Linked DNA regions of Homo sapiens. The protein of the gene in region 1 purifies or fractionates together with the protein of each later gene. This does not show direct contact. Each region holds a gene or a part of one and is shown on either strand. Other genes may lie near its edges.

Region 1 (4,019 bases):
CTAAGTTGTACATTTTATGTAAATAAAGAAAATTATGTAAAGCACGGAGGATGAAACCTGCCACACCTAAGTCGTTCTGAAGGCAGAGTAAGAATCTCAGGGGTTTTTCTTGTGGGGGCAGGAGGGGTGAGCTTTATTAAAAGCGTACTGCGCTTGCTTCCTTCTCAAGCCTTGCCTGAGAGAGCAAATGCCTGCTCCACCATCCTTTCCTTTGCCAAGCGTCTTAAAACCCATCCAGTTTCTTCATCATATTTTAAGTGGCTTAATGGCCATTTAGGCCCAACTCGTTTGGGTGGAACTCGATCCAGGTTTTTCCTTTTCAGAAAGGCCAAGAAAGATAACAGATTCCGTGAAAAAGACCAAGGTAAACTTTGGTTCAAATCCAGATCCACCACTTGTCAGCTGTGGCTCTGCGGTGGACGTATTAATCTCTGAGTCTCTTATTTCCCAGTCTGCACAATGGGAAAAACGAGGACATCTGTCCCACAGAATCCTTATACGCCACTACGAAAAAGTGACGCACGTCAAAAAAAACCGCTGAGCATGGCGCCCGGCGAGGAGAGCACGTTCGCACACAGTGCCCGCCGGACCCGCTGCGCCACGGCAAAAAAACAAAAAACAAACAAAAAAAAACACAAAGAAACACGCGGGGTTCAACAAGGAGAGGGCGAGGGGTGCCACGCGAACCGGGCGAGGACACGGAGAGCGCCAGGCAGAGTAGAAGGGCCTCTGTCTCCTCGTGACGCCGGTCCCGCGCGGCCCTCTCGCTTTGTCTCAGGCACGAACGCGCGCACGAAACCGAGAAACCGAGAAGCCGAGAAGCCAAGGCCGTCAGGCTCTGATGACCGGACAAGGAGCCCAAGGCGCGGGGACCGTGGCACGCAGCTCGGTTGGACGGCTTGGGCCGGCGGCCGCCCTCTCTGGACCCGGGAACCCACCGGCCCAGAGCGACCCGCGATAGGAACCCGGGTTCCTGGCCTCAGCCCCTCTCCAGAGTCGGCTCCAACCCCGCTCGTTTTGGTACTCACCGTGTGGAGACGCCACCGCAGCTCCGTCAGTCGCGAGTGAAGAACCTCAGAAACCGCCGCTGTACCTCAGCTGCAGCAGCAACTGCAGTTCCGGGGCGGGACCTCCACGCACGTACTCGTGCGCGCTGGGGAGGAAGTCCCGCCCCTATGGCAAACTCAGCTACCTGATTGGCTGCCTCGCGGACCGCAGCAGTGCCGGCGGGAGAGCTGGCTTGGGGCGCTGGCACCTCCTCTTACAGCTTTACTCCTGCCAGCTTGGGAAAAGGCCGGAGAAGGTGAAATTCTGTGTGCTCCCTCCGGCGAGAGACTTTGTCAGCTCCCGCACAGTAACGTAAGTTTTCTTGTATTCTTAGTGTAGTTTCGTTACCGGAAAGGGGTCTCGATCCAGACCCCAAGAGAGGGTTCTTGGATCTTGCACAGGAAAGAATTCAGGGTGAGTCCGCATAGCAAAGCAAAAGCAAGTTTATTAAGTACTTTACTCCGTAGACAGAGTAGGGCGTTCCCGAAGGTAAGAGGACGAACGCGTCCATCCTAGGTACAATGCTCGTACCTAGATCATAGGGAGATGTGCTCTGCTACAAGGGTGACGTGTGATGAGTGTTCCTTGTATTGTAATTGTTTTGGGGCGCCATGAGCTGTGCCCATATAAGATACAAACGTAATTGATAAATGTTGTGTGTGTTCAGACTAATCCACTGACAGGCCGTTCTTCCTTCTCTCTCCCTTTCCTTGGGTCTCTATTCCCTGAGACACAACAGTGTTGAAATTAGGTCAATTAATAACCCTACAATGGGCCTCTAAGTGTTCAAGTGAAAGAAAGAGTCGCACATCTCTCACTTTAACTCAAAAGCTAGAAATGGTTAAGCTTAGTGAGGAAGGGATGTCAAAAGGCAAGATAGGCTGAAAGCTAGGCTGAAAGTTTGCACCAAAAAGTTAGCCAGTTTGTGAATGCAAAGGAAAAGTTACTGAAGGAAATTAAACATTTTACTCTAATGAACACATGAATGATATGAAAGCGAAACAGTTTATTGCTGATTTGGAGAAAATTTTAGTGGTTTGGATAGAAAATAAAACCGGCTACAGCATCCCCTAAACCCAAAACCGAATCCAAAGCAAGGCCCTGATTCTCTTCTATTCTATGATGACTGAGAGAGGTGAGGAAGCTATAGAAGTTTGAAGCTAGAAGAGATTATTTCATGAGGTTTAAGGAAAGAAGCCGTCTCCAGAACATGAAAGTGTAAGATGAGGCAGCAAATGCTGATGGAGAAGCTGCAGCAAGTTATCCCCAAGATCTAGGTAAGATCGTTGATGAAGGTGGCCACTGAACAGCAAGTAGTCAATGTAGACAAAACAGCCTTCTATTGGAAGAAGACGCCATCAAGGACTTTCATAGCTAGAGAGGTCAATGTCTGGCCTCAAAGGCCAAGCTCACTCTTTTGTTAGAGGCTAATGCAGCTAGTGACTTTGGATTGAAGCCAGTGCTTGTTTACCATTCTATTATAAAAATCTTAGGTCTCTTAAGAATTACGCTAAATATAATCTGCCTGTGCTCTGTAAGTAGAACAACAAAGCCTGGATGACAGCACAACTGTTCATAGCATGGTTTACTGAATATTTTAAGCCCACTGTTGAGGCCTACTGCTCAGAAAAAAGGATTTCTCTCAAAGTATTATTGCTCATTGAAAATGTGCATAGTCACACGAGAGCTCTAATGGAGATGTATAAGGAGATGAATGTTGTTTTCATGTCTGTGAACACAAGATCCATTCTTCAGCCCATGGATCAAGAAGTAATTTTGCATTTCAAGTTTTATTACTTAAGATACATTTCGTAAGGCTATGGCTGCCATAGAGAGTTATTCCTCTGATGGATCTGGGCAAAGTATATTGAAAACCTTCTGGAAAGGGTTCACTATTTTAGATATCATTAAGAACATTTGTGATTCATGGGAAGATGTCAAAATATCAAAATTAACAAGAGTTCGGAAGAAGTTGACTCCAGTTCTCATTGATGACTTTGAGAGGTTCAAGACTTCAGTGAAGGAGGTAACTGCAGATGTGGTTGGAAATAGCAAGAAAACTAAAATTACAAGCGGAGCCTGAAGATATGACTGAATTGTGGCAATCTCGTGAGAAACTTGAATGGATGAACAGTTCCTTCTAATGTATGACCAAAGAAAGTGGTTTCTTGAGATACAATCTACTCCTGGTGAAGATGCTGGGAACACTGTTGAAATGACAATGAAGGATTTAGAATATTTCGTAAACTTAGTTGATAAAGCAGTGGCAGGGTTTGAGAGGATTGACTACAATTTTGAACATTCTACTGTGGATAAAATGCTACCAATTAGCATCACATGCTACTGAGAAATCTTTCATGAAAGGAAGAGTCAATCCATGCAGCAAACTTCATTGTTGTGTTATTTTAAGAAATTGCCACAGCACCTCACCTTTCAGCAACCACCACCCTAATCAATCAGCTGGTTTCAGAAAAAAAGAAAAGTATATTATGGCAGAGGGGGACACAGTCAAAATGTTAATAATTGGTGAATTATTGGTGCTAGAGTAAGGGTACGTGAGTGTTCATTGTACTATTCTTTCAACTTTTTTGAGGTTTAAAACTTTTCAAAATAAAGAGTTGAGTAAATTGTTTTGATTTAAAAATTATGAATTAAAAAGAAATTGGTTTAAGCCAGGTGTGGTGGCACATCCCTGTAGTCCCAGCTATCCAGGAGGCTGAAGAGGGAGGATCGCTTGGGCTCTGGAGTGTGAGTCCAGCATGGACAACATAGCAAGACATCATCTTTAAAAAAAGAAAAAGAAAGAAGGAAAGAAAGAGAGTCAATTTTAATTTTTAAAAATGGGGGAGGGGGAGATGTCAACCAAAAGCAAAATGATGGCAAAGTTTCCATTATAGTAGTGGAAACATAGGTATTTTTTTTCCTTCTTCTCAATATTCTAATTTTAAAAAATAGTAAGAATAAACTATTTT
Region 2 (3,672 bases), on another chromosome or scaffold:
GTAAGAACATTTCTCTTTAGGTTTGTTCAATTTCATGGTTAAATTTACAGATAGAAAAGGTTTTCTTTATTATTTCTCTTTTGCCTTCTGAAATTGTTTTGCCTCAATTATAAAAAATAATCCATGATCATTGTAGAATATTAGAAAATATTAAAAATAGAAATCAAAATTTCCTATTTCTATCACGCAAAGACAAACGTTATGAACATTTTGGTACGTTTCTTTTTTTTTTTTTTTTTTTTTTTGAGACAGAGTCTCGCTCTGTTGCCCAGGCTGGAGTGCAGTGGCGTGATCTCGGCTCACTGCAAGCTCCGCCTCCCAGGTTCACGCCATTCTCCTGCCTCAGCCTCCTGAGTAGCTGGGACCACAGGCACCCGCCACCACGCCCGGCTAATTTTTTGTATTTTTAGTAGAGACAGGGTTTCGCCGTATTAGCCAGGATAGGATGGTTTTGATCTCCTGACCTCGTGATCTGCCCGCCTCGGCCTCCCAAAGTGCTGGGATTACAGGCGTGAGCCACCGCGGCTGGCCTGGTATGTTTCTTTCTAACTGCTCCTTAAATGGCATTTTTTTAAGTTGTGAACTAGATAAATAGTGAGCAGCCCCCATTTTATATAACAAATTAAACATGTCCCCATGTTTTAATAAATCTCCACATTTTCATGTATATGAGATATTTGATCTTTGCATCTTGTGGTTAAACTCACCATTTCTCATTTGGGTTTTCCCAGTTTTAAGATTTGAGTATCTTTAAGCATAACCTACTTATCTTCTTCTTAAGACCTTGTTGTTTCTAACTCTGCATCTTCACTTCTTTGGTGAGTTCAGATTCTGTGACTTTGTCCCTCAAGAAGCAAGATTTAGACCTACTTTGTCTGCTTTTTCTTTTATTTTAGAAATGCTGAGCCTGATGAACAGGACTTTGAGAAGAGCAATTCCCGAAAGCGCCCTCGGGATGCCCTGCAGAAGGAGGAGGAGATGGAGGGGGACTACCAAGAAACCTGGAAAGCCACGGGGAGCCGATCCTATAGCCCTGACCACAGGCAGAAGAAACATAGGAAACTCTCGGAGCTCGAGAGACCTCACAAAGTGTCTCACGGTCATGAGAGGAGAGATGAGAGAAAGAGGTGTCACAGAATGTCACCAACTTACTCTTCAGACCCTGAGTCTTCTGATTATGGCCATGTTCAATCCCCTCCATCTTGTACCAGTCCTCATCAGATGTACGTCGACCACTACAGATCCCTGGAGGAGGACCAGGAGCCCATTGTTTCACACCAGAAGCCTGGGAAAGGCCACAGCAATGCCTTTCAGGACAGACTCGGGGCCAGCCAAGAACGACACCTGGGTGAACCCCATGGGAAAGGGGTTGTGAGTCAAAACAAGGAGCACAAATCTTCCCACAAGGACAAACGCCCCGTGGATGCCAAGAGTGATGAGAAGGCCTCTGTGGTGAGCAGAGAGAAATCACACAAGGCCCTCTCCAAAGAGGAGAACCGAAGGCCACCCTCAGGGGACAATGCAAGGGAGAAACCGCCCTCTAGTGGCGTAAAGAAAGAGAAGGACAGAGAGGGCAGCAGCCTGAAGAAGAAGTGTTTGCCTCCCTCAGAGGCCGCTTCAGACAACCACCTGAAAAAGCCAAAGCACAGAGACCCAGAGAAAGCCAAATTGGACAAAAGCAAGCAAGGTCTGGACAGCTTTGACACAGGAAAAGGAGCAGGAGACCTGTTGCCCAAGGTAAAAGAGAAGGGTTCTAACAACCTAAAGACTCCAGAAGGGAAAGTCAAAACTAATTTGGATAGAAAGTCACTGGGCTCCCTCCCTAAAGTTGAGGAGACAGATATGGAGGATGAATTCGAGCAGCCAACCATGTCTTTTGAATCCTACCTCAGCTATGACCAGCCCCGGAAGAAAAAGAAAAAGATTGTGAAAACTTCAGCCACGGCACTTGGAGATAAAGGACTTAAAAAAAATGACTCTAAAAGCACTGGTAAAAACTTGGACTCAGTTCAGAAATTACCCAAGGTGAACAAAACCAAGTCAGAGAAGCCGGCTGGAGCTGATTTAGCCAAGCTGAGAAAGGTAACCCCTTCAGCCCCTTGGTGGCTTCCCACCCAGAGCACCTGGCCCTGCAGAGCTCAGAGGATTGCCCTGCCACTGTTTTCCTTAGCTTGCTTTTGGGGGGCATGTTGAATTTCAGTGTGCAGTAATTTCCTCTGGGCTTCACTGGTTGTCAGGGTATATGGTACCGCAAATAAGAATTTTCTGCATTATTCTCTTGTGATGGGCTCATCTGTATTTATTTCCTGACTGAGGTGGTGTCAGACATGACTGTGGCCCCCTCCAACCTGGATCTTCCTGTGCAAGATGTCCAGTTAATGCTCCCGGGAATAGACTGTAGGAAAGAGAGCTGTGCTTCTACTCACTGACTCTCCACCCATGGGTCTGTCCCCTGCAGGTGCCTGATGTGTTGCCAGTGTTGCCAGACCTCCCGTTACCCGCGATACAGGCCAATTACCGTCCACTGCCTTCCCTCGAGCTGATATCCTCCTTCCAGCCAAAGCGAAAAGGTAATTTTCTATATCTTCTTTTTCTTAATGGGAAAAAGATTTAAAAATTCATTCAAGGCAGGGTACAGTGGCTCACACCTATAATTCCAGCACTTTGGGAGGCCGAGGTAAGAGGATTGCTTGCGGCCAAGGGTTCTAAACCAACCAGGCGTGGTGGCTCACTCCTGTAATCCCAGCACTTTGGGAGGCCGAGGCGGGCAGATCACCTTAGGTAAGAAGTTCGAGATTAGCCTGGCCAACATGGTGAAACCCTGTCTCTACTAAAAATACAAAAATTAGCCAGGCATGGTGGTGCGTGCCTGTAATCCCAGCTACTCCGGAGGCTGAGGCAGGAGAATTGCTTGAACCTGGGAGGTGGAGGTTGCAGTGGGCCGAGATTACGCCATTGCACTCAAGCCTGGGTGACAAGAGGGAAACTCTATTTCAAAAAAAAGGAGTTCTAAACCACCCTGGTCAACACAGCAAGATGCTGTCTCTACAAGAGAAAAAAAGTAGCCAGGCATGGTGGCACATCCCAGGTACTCGGTAGGCTGAGGTGGGAGTATCACTTGAGCCCAGGAGTTCAAGGCTGCAGTGAGCTCTGATTGCATCACTGCACTCTAGCTTGGGTGACAGAGCAAGACTGTTTCAAAAACAAACAAAAAAACTATCACCATAACATCAGATTTTTGATGCATTTCCTAAGTGCATAGACTCTGAAGTTTGATGGCTTGGGTTTGAATCCCAACTCTGGTTTCTGCAAGTTATATGACCTTGAGAAATATCTTAATTTCTTTGGACCTTAGTTGTATATATTGTGTAAATGGGAGTTATAATGGTATCTGCCCCATAGGGCTCAGTTTAATGAATTCAGAAGTGATGCCTTTTTGCTCTGGGTTTATCACATAGTAATTGTTCAGTAAATTGCTGCTGCTGTTATTAGCAGCCCTTTATCCTATGTGTTACATAGGATTTTTGTCTGAAAGAAAAAAATGTCTAATTTTCATAGCAAAAGAAGTAGAAGCCACATAAGGGTCTATCAGCAGGAGACTAACAGATAAATCATGGTTCATCTACACAGTGGCATCCTATGCCACAGTAAAAAAAAAATGTGGAAAGTCTA
Region 3 (4,386 bases), on another chromosome or scaffold:
GGAGTAATAGGAGAGCAGTCACTGAGTATGTGAGGACCTAGGAGAACTTAGAAATCTTCCTTCTACAGCAGTCCCTATTTGAAAAGCCCTCAGGGAGATAGTTTATTCAGAAAATAGTTTTGCTTAGCTAAGATAAGAATGCGATTATAGAGGAAAAAGTGAGAGAATGTTTTACAGTGGAAAGGAGGTTCCAGGAGCATGAGGTGAACCTGGAAGGGTTCAACAGTAGTGCCATGAGTTAATAGAAAATAGGGAGCATTTTCTATTCTGGGTATGTGTGTGTAGAGGTGGTGTACATTTTCAGCTTCATAAATGGATACAGATGAGTGGACATATATATATAATATATTATATAATATATATTATATATATAATATATTATATAATATATATAATATAATATATATATACTATTAGTTCTGTCCATCTAGAGAACCCTGATTAATACAGCATTGTATTTTACTAAATTTCTTATTTCTTGTTATGCACATTTAGTTTTTCAATACATTGATTTATTAAATTTCTATCTCAATGTGATTTGTTTATACAAAATTGAATTAGTGAAATATTAACATATTTTAGAGATGTGGAAAAAATACCAGGTATGAGTTTAATTACTAGTCAATGAATTCATTCAGATAATTCAACTAGGATTAAGCTTTTTAAAAATTAAAAATAGTAAAAATTCATATTATTTTAAAGACTTTCAATAAACGTTTTTGGTTTTTATTTGCTTTAAGAATTTCCTATGCGAATTAAATGATGTTGATTTTGTTTACTTTAGTAGCACATGCTCTTTTAGCCTAGTGGATCATTTTGTTTGGTTTGATTGGAATAAGATTACTCACTAAGTATACAAAGAGGGGGAGTTTTACATTCAAGTAAGATGTCAAATGGGCTTTCAGTTGTGTCCACAAGAGCTGAGGTCTCTCCAGGCCCTTTGCGGCTTAGTTGCATGAAGAGCATATCTAATATCGAATACAATTCCAGGCACTCTTCCAAGTGTTCCACTTGTATTATTTCATTCAATTTTACAGCAACCTTTCAGGTGTCTATTATTAGTACACTTTTGTTTTCCCCCAGAAGAAGAAACTGAGTCATAAAGACCTTAACTTGGGACAATCACGTGTGTAGGAAAGGGGTACCAGGATTCAAACCTGCAGTCGGAAACAGGGTTCTGCAAACTCACTACCGTACTATTCTGTCCCATCCACTGACACCGTACTTCGATTCAGAGAACTTCACGTCCTAACTGTGGCAAAACGACGAATGTGCTTTATTTGCAACACGTGCAGATAAGGACCCTTACTCTATTGGCAAGAGTAAGGCTATCTGGGTGGGAGTTGGGCGGGTCCTGTCTCCTAGGCAACAGCACATGCACACAAGCGACCAATAATGAGCCCCTCTCCAAAGACCCAGGAAGGTGATGTCACTTCCTTCGTCTGGGTGGTTGCCCCAGCGACACGTTGGGCCGAAGAGCGGTGTTGGGTACCCGAGAGACCCGGCGGTGGGGAAGTCACTTCCTCCCGAAGACGCTGTTTCCTAGCAACCGCCCTCCGCCTCTGTTATTAGCCCCTCCTCCTCGCTCGGTCCAGGACCGGCTCTGCGGGCGCCGCCAGGCCCAGACCAAGGTGAGCAGCTCCTACCCGATGCTTGGCTCTTGATTCTCAGGGTCGCGGAGAACTGGCCGCGGGCGTCCGGGGCCGGGAACAGAAAGCGGGACCTGGGGGCCATGGGGGATCCGGACAGAGACCGCGCTTGGACGTGCACGGGCCTGGCGTTCGCTGGTGCTCAGCATACGGCGCGGTGAGGAGCGGCGAGCACCCGGACGTCACCTGGCCTGGTAGGGAACGGAACCCGGGGCGCACAACGCTATGGGCGGCCCTGCCAGGCCTCTGCTCCGAGTACGGGAAACCGCGATTTTAATGCGGCTCATCGCGAAAGCTTCGTCGTTTTGTCTGGCTCTCTTTAACACTTTTGTGAGAGGAAAAATTGGCTTGCAATACATCTCGCTGGCTGTTTGCGGGTTAGCATTACGATCTTTTTCTTTGAATAGCGCTGTATGCAAATATATAGATACATTTTTTTTTTGGTGGTGGTGCTCATAATTTTTACGCCGACGATCCTTTTGATGGCCTTTTAAATAAGACGTGACTTATTTTGAAGGCAATGTTATACTTTAGAAGAGAGGTGAAAAATAAGGTGTTCTATTTTAATTGGCAGCATTTTGTCGTATTAACTTGTAATCATTTATTTGCAGACTTTTTAAGTAGTTGCAAAACTATTTTAGGATAACTTCCATTTGAATTTTTTTAAACAAGCTTGTTATGAGAATTTGCTATTTCTTTACAAGAACCTTTTTAAGTGAAGATGTAGCCCAATGTTCATATCAGATGCTTTTCTTTGACCTTTGTGGGGAGAGTAGAATCAAATGTAATAAAATAAATTCTGAAGCATGCGAAGTCTGATTTGTTTTGTATATTTCAGCTACTATCAGAAGTTGAATTCTAATAATTAGCTATTTTATAAAGGTAACGAGAAAAAATACACTATGTCTGATGAAGTTTTTAGCACCACTTTGGCATATACAAAGAGTCCAAAAGTTACCAAAAGAACTACTTTCCAGGTAAAGTATTTTTATTTGGAATCATTTCACAGTGTAAACACTGTATTAGATGGGTTGAAATTGGTGATTCTAGAACAGTCCTATATAAAGCAGGGGTAAATCTTATATTACTTTTGAGGTTTTGCACATGATCATGTTTGGGCTCCATCCAGTATTACAAACTCCCCTATATGGTTTTAAGACTACCAAAGTAGCCTCAATACTAGTTTCCTACTAAGTTAAAAGTTGAATCGCAACCTTAAATTGCCATTTTTATATAAAAACTTTTTTTTCTGTTGTAACATAATGTTTAAGTTTTTTTTTCTGTTGAGTCACTGCAATTTTGAACTCAGCCTCTAAGTTTGCAATATTGATTGCATCCATTTCTGAAATATGCCGAGACAAAAGCTCTTAAAAATACCAATTTCTTTCAAAATACCAGTTTTTAATAAATTATAATCTAAATTGAGCCCCTTCTTATTTGTTACCCTCCAGCTCTAATTATAACCTGCAATTAATTTGTTCCATAATGTGTGTCTCCTCTAGTTAAACTGCGAGCTCCATGAGGAAGGGCTCTTGTCTGTGATGCTCTGCATTGAGTATGAGGCGTAAAGTGGGTACATGGCATAAAGTGAGCTTGCAGGAAATATTTGTTAGATGAATGAAACCTAAGTTTGAAAGCAGTCGTTAATCAAGCATTGTTTGTTTAAAGAATTACTTGTGAATATGATACCTCCATGTTTGGATGGAAATTGATTTCAGTATCTCATTTCAGGATGAGCTAATAAGAGCAATTACAGCTCGCTCAGCCAGACAAAGGAGTTCTGAATACTCAGATGACTTTGACAGTGATGAGATTGGTATGTGACAGTATGGAAACGTGAACCACTTTTCTTCTTTTTGCTTCCTTAGTTTTGTATTTAGCCAGCCCCCCAACCACCCATCCCCTCAATCACGTATGTTAAAATAATACCTAAGCATTCACTAATTTTAGATTTTCAACTTTTTAATTAGTAGAAAGCCACTCTTAATTTTCAGGAAGTTGTATGATTTTCTTTTTTTATTGTTGTTTTGTTTTCTGAATGTGTATACGAAAATATAAATTAATTGATGGCAGGTTTGCAGTAAAAGGATGGCTGCCAGTGGTAAACCACATTGAAGAAGACAGGTTCATCTTTAAGATCAACCCTAGGAGGTGCTACAGCTAGTTAGTAACTAGTCCCACAGAACTAAACTTCGGTGCACATTAGAAGTGCTTTTATAAAGCTTGCTATAAATCAGATTTTTTTTGGCTGTGATAAGGGGTAAATTTAAAAACCACAGACTCTTCGTGTTTCATATATCAGTACTATTATAATTTGGTTTCTCTTAGCTATGTAAACATATTAACATTTTAGTTTCAGGTATAAGCATACAGAATTCTAAACTTGGTGTTTTTGTTTGTTTGTTTTTGTTTTTGAGATGGAGTCTCGCTCAGTTGCTCAAGCTGGAGTGCAGTGGTGCAATCTCGGCTCACTGCAACCTCCACCTCCCAGGTTCAAGTGATTCTCCTCCTTCAGCCTCCTGAGTAGCTGGGACTACAGGTGCCCGCCACCATGCCCGGCTAATTTTTGTATTTTTAGTAGAGATGGGGTTTCACCACATCGGCCAGGCTGGTCTCGAACTCCTGACCTTGTGATCCGCCCGCCTCAGCCTCCCAAAGTGCTGGGATTATAGGTGTGAGCCACCGCACCCGGCCTGGTGTTTTATTCTTTAAAATTTGGTGAATAATTGTAATTGAT
Region 4 (3,672 bases), on another chromosome or scaffold:
AAGCCGACTCTCTGTGATGAGTGAGTGAGTGAGTGGGTGAGTGGGTGGTTGCGTGTGTGTCATTGTGAGAGCCTGGTGCTTCAGGGGCTGAGGGCGTTTTTGTTGTTTCCTACACAGGAAGAATTAGGAAGGACTATTTCCCAGCTCGTTCATGCTTTTCAGACCACGGAGGCGCGTGAGTATGCTCTGCTGTAGTTGGGTGCATTTGTAGATGTCAGAACCTCTGAGCATCAGAGCCACCAGACCCAGGAGGTTTGTGTTCTCAAATCCAGAGTAAGGAATGCCTAAGGGCAAGAGAGCGCCAGCTGGTGTCTGTGGGTGCTTAGCATGTGTGCAGTGCTGGTGTAAGTATTCAACATGGATTAGCTCATTTACCCAAAACCCTCATTTCGAGCCTAATGGGCTAATATCTTACACTTTAAAAATAAAGTGAAAAGCCAGGATAATGTCACCAAGAGATTGGACTGAATTCCGCCTGATGGTCCTGAGGTTCCTGCAGTTGATTTTTCTGACTCCTCTGTTCTCTGGTGACCGGAGTTGAGAAGTTCTTACCCTGCCTGTCTGTAGGACTCACTTGAGGAGCCTCTAAAAATCCTCATGTCCAGATCCTGGTCCAGCAAGATCCAGTTCTGGGGGTAGGGCCTGGGCATCAGCATTTTTTATCTATAGCTATGTAAAGAACGGGTTCCTCCATGTTCTCACCTCCCTCCCCAGAGTGGCTTCGTGCTCCTCAGTGGTTCTCTTCTGGCTTATTCCTTCTCCAGAGCACCTGTTCCTTCAGGCCTTCTGGCAGACCATGAATCGCGAGTGGACGGGCATTGACAGGCTGCGCCTGGATAAATTCTACATGGTGAGGCAGCCACCAGGGTGCCGGCGGGCGGGGGCAGCGCGGGTCTCAGTGCCTGGCCAAGCGAGACAGGCGGCACCTGGGCAGGGAGGCAACCTGAGGCAGTGCGACCCTGAAGCCAGGGGTGGGAGGTGGAGCCGAGACTCTGGGCGGTCCCTGACCAGGGCTCTGCAGCTTTGTCCAGTCTCTGAGGGTCATTGAATGGGCAAGGAATTCGACCCTTAAAACACCACACAAACTTTTGGTTCAGAGAAGGAAAGTGACGATTGCTCTCCTGGTGAGAGTCGATGGTGACACCGTTGTTACCTTGTCAAAGAGGCAGAGTGAGTCTGGAGGCGCAGCAGAGGAGCTGCGGTCACGCCCTAGCATGAGCCCTGGAGTGCTTAGCCTGCGAGGCTGGGATGGATGGTCACAGTGTGGGACTTCCTTTCCCTCCTCCCTCATTGTATCCCCGTTCAGGGCACTGATTTGCCCTGAGAATACAGGGGAACACTGGGGTTTAGAGGTGCAGCGTGTTGCTGCCCGGACCTGCTTCTCTCCTTCCCTCCTTCCCTCTTGTTGAACCATGAGGTCTCGTTACTAAGGTGGTGGTCATTGTAACCTTAGAGCAGGCCTGAGATACAGGGACATTGTCACTGTGTAGGAGTCGGTCACCCAATGGGGACACTGAAAGGGGCCATGTCCGGGTCTCACTGAGGACAGATGTTGATCTGCCACTCTGGCTTCAGTGTCCAGCTCAGATTCGGGCCAGGATTGTGCAGACAGCATATATACCAGTGATTCTAGAAGTGGAGACCAGGGCGGGAAAGGCCTGGAGCTCAAGAAGGAAGGAGGCTCCAGGGCAGGCCAGGGGCCCGGCCATGCACTCAGACAGAGTGCAGACTCTTAGGGACAATGGGGCTCTGCAGGGAGGCCACCCTACTGTTTTGCTGAGATGTGGCTGCTGGGTCCCTGGATGGATGCGTTCTGCTGCTTTCCATGGCTCGTTTCTGGGTGCCCCTTGTGTGGCTGAGTCCAGCAGCACAGCCTTGCGTCAGGGCTAGCCTCGGTGGCACCGCAGGGTGTTGTGGGGGATAGGCCTCCTGTGTCTGCAAGAACAGTGTCCGGGCTGCTGGGCTGTGCTCTGTCATCGGGGCTCCTGGGGGTCCGCGTGTCCTCTGCTGCTACTGACTGCAGCTCAGACCCCACTCTGGGCGTGTGGGCATGCTGGGTCAGTAGCCTAAAGGGGGGACAACTGCAGAAGGGTGTTGAGCCCCATGGAGGGAAATGGCATTGTTGATTCACGGGTGAGGCTTGGCGGGAGGGCCTTCGCTGTGTAGTGGACCGCAGAGGAAGTGAGCTACATTCTGCCCGTTGCGGGGGGTTTGGTGAGGACCAGCCGTGTTTCAGACCTGGTTTTGCGGAGGGCTCCACCGCCCGTGGGGGTAGCCGTGCCTCTTTCCTGGTTCTCCCTTATGAATCGGACTGTTCCGTTTCAGCCCCGGTTTATGGACTGGAGTCGTAGGACTGTCCCCTATTACCCCCGACCCCCCATGCACCTGCTTCCTGCCAGCTGGGGCCTTGGAGCCGGGGATAGGGCATGTTCTCAGCCCAGGGTTCTGAGGGCTTGGTGGTGTGTCCTCCAGCGTCTGTCTGTCAGCAGCTCTGGGGGCCGGCTGTGTGCTGGGGCCGGCAGAGGTCACCACGGCCATGACTTTATCCTGCAGCGGATGGTGGTACATGGGGATGGGTGGTCTGGCGAAGTAGGGCTGGGCTTCTGCTAATGCCAACCTCCTTCTGTGTCAAAGCTCATGCGGATGGTCCTGAACGAGTCCTTGAAGGTTCTGAAGATGCAAGGCTGGGAAGAAAGGTGGGTGCGCGGCGGGCCTGCTCTGGGGGGACGCTGTTCTCGGGGACCGCAGTCGTGTTTGTCATTTGATTCTTTGCCATAAGGAGATGTCAGCCTTTATATTAACGCATGCCCCCAATCGTGCTTAGAGAGAAGATAGTTTTTAAAGTAAAAATCAGTTTGTGTGTTTGTGGAAATGATGCCATTTATCCTCAGGCTTGGAGGCCAGTTCTCACTGGGAGTCAGAAGGGAGTTTTTTAATGAAAGGGTGTCCAGCCGAGGAGCTTCTTATAAAAACACGGCATGTTCCGCTTCATTAGCAATGCTTTTTGTTTTTTTGAAATAGGTGTCACTGTTGCCTAGGCTGGAGTGCAGTGGCGTGATCTTGGCTCAACTACAGCCTTGACCTCCCGGGCTCAAGTGATCCTCCTGCCTCAGCCGCCCAACTGGCTGGGACTGCAGATGTGCACCACCAGGCCCACGTAATTTTTGTATCTTTTTTTGGTAGAGACGAGTTCTGTCCTGTTGCCCAGGCTTGTCTCAAACTCTTGGGCTCAAACAATCTGCCTGCCTAGGCCTCCCAAGTTGTAAGCAATGTTAATTGCTCCTAATTCTAAAAATATGTAAATTGGCTGGGCGCGGTGGCTCACATCTGTAATCCCAGCACTTTGGGAGGCCGAGGCGGGCAGATCACAAGGTCAAGAGATCGAGACCATCCTGGCCACCATGGTGAAACCGTGTCTCTACTAAAAGTACAAAAATTAGATAAATGCATAGAAAAGAATTAGCAGGCTGGTTATGGTGGGTTAAGGGGATCTCTTGAGCCCAGGAGTTTGAGGCTGCAGTGATCTGTGACTGAGCCACTGCACTCTAGCCTAGGTGATAGAGTGAGATTCTGGTTTTTTGTTTTTTTTTTTTAAAGAATCAGCAGGAATTGAACTGTGGCTGCTGAGTTTCTCTAGGTTTGAGTTGCATGGGTGATTTTGCATTTAGGGCA

The links. Proteins that work in one complex are often made in the same cells at the same time.
Region 2: the proteins of IFI27L1 (region 1) and ELOA purify together in Homo sapiens (affinity purification with mass spectrometry; one large-scale study listed by BioGRID and IntAct). This does not show direct contact.
Region 3: the proteins of IFI27L1 (region 1) and MAP9 purify together in Homo sapiens (affinity purification with mass spectrometry; one large-scale study listed by BioGRID and IntAct). This does not show direct contact.
Region 4: the proteins of IFI27L1 (region 1) and RRP1 purify together in Homo sapiens (affinity purification with mass spectrometry; one large-scale study listed by BioGRID and IntAct). This does not show direct contact.

The regions. Positions count from the first base shown.
Region 1 is NC_000014.9:94,080,091-94,084,109, forward strand, and holds the start of IFI27L1 (interferon alpha-inducible protein 27-like protein 1 precursor), read left to right. Parts: upstream 1-1,219; 5' UTR 1,220-1,359; intron 1,360-4,019. UniProt on the Homo sapiens protein: Plays a role in the apoptotic process and has a pro-apoptotic activity.
Region 2 is NC_000001.11:23,749,949-23,753,620, forward strand, and holds part of ELOA (elongin-A), read left to right. Parts: intron 1-896; coding exon 897-2,082; intron 2,083-2,458; coding exon 2,459-2,570; intron 2,571-3,672. UniProt on the Homo sapiens protein: SIII, also known as elongin, is a general transcription elongation factor that increases the RNA polymerase II transcription elongation past template-encoded arresting sites.
Region 3 is NC_000004.12:155,374,016-155,378,401, reverse strand, and holds the start of MAP9 (microtubule-associated protein 9), read left to right. Parts: upstream 1-1,436; 5' UTR 1,437-1,631; exon of another isoform or gene 1,632-2,026; intron 2,027-2,487; 5' UTR 2,488-2,551; coding exon 2,552-2,626; intron 2,627-3,380; coding exon 3,381-3,465; intron 3,466-4,386. UniProt on the Homo sapiens protein: Involved in organization of the bipolar mitotic spindle. Required for bipolar spindle assembly, mitosis progression and cytokinesis. May act by stabilizing interphase microtubules.
Region 4 is NC_000021.9:43,792,555-43,796,226, forward strand, and holds part of RRP1 (ribosomal RNA processing protein 1 homolog A), read left to right. Parts: intron 1-117; coding exon 118-175; intron 176-764; coding exon 765-850; intron 851-2,634; coding exon 2,635-2,696; intron 2,697-3,672. UniProt on the Homo sapiens protein: Plays a critical role in the generation of 28S rRNA.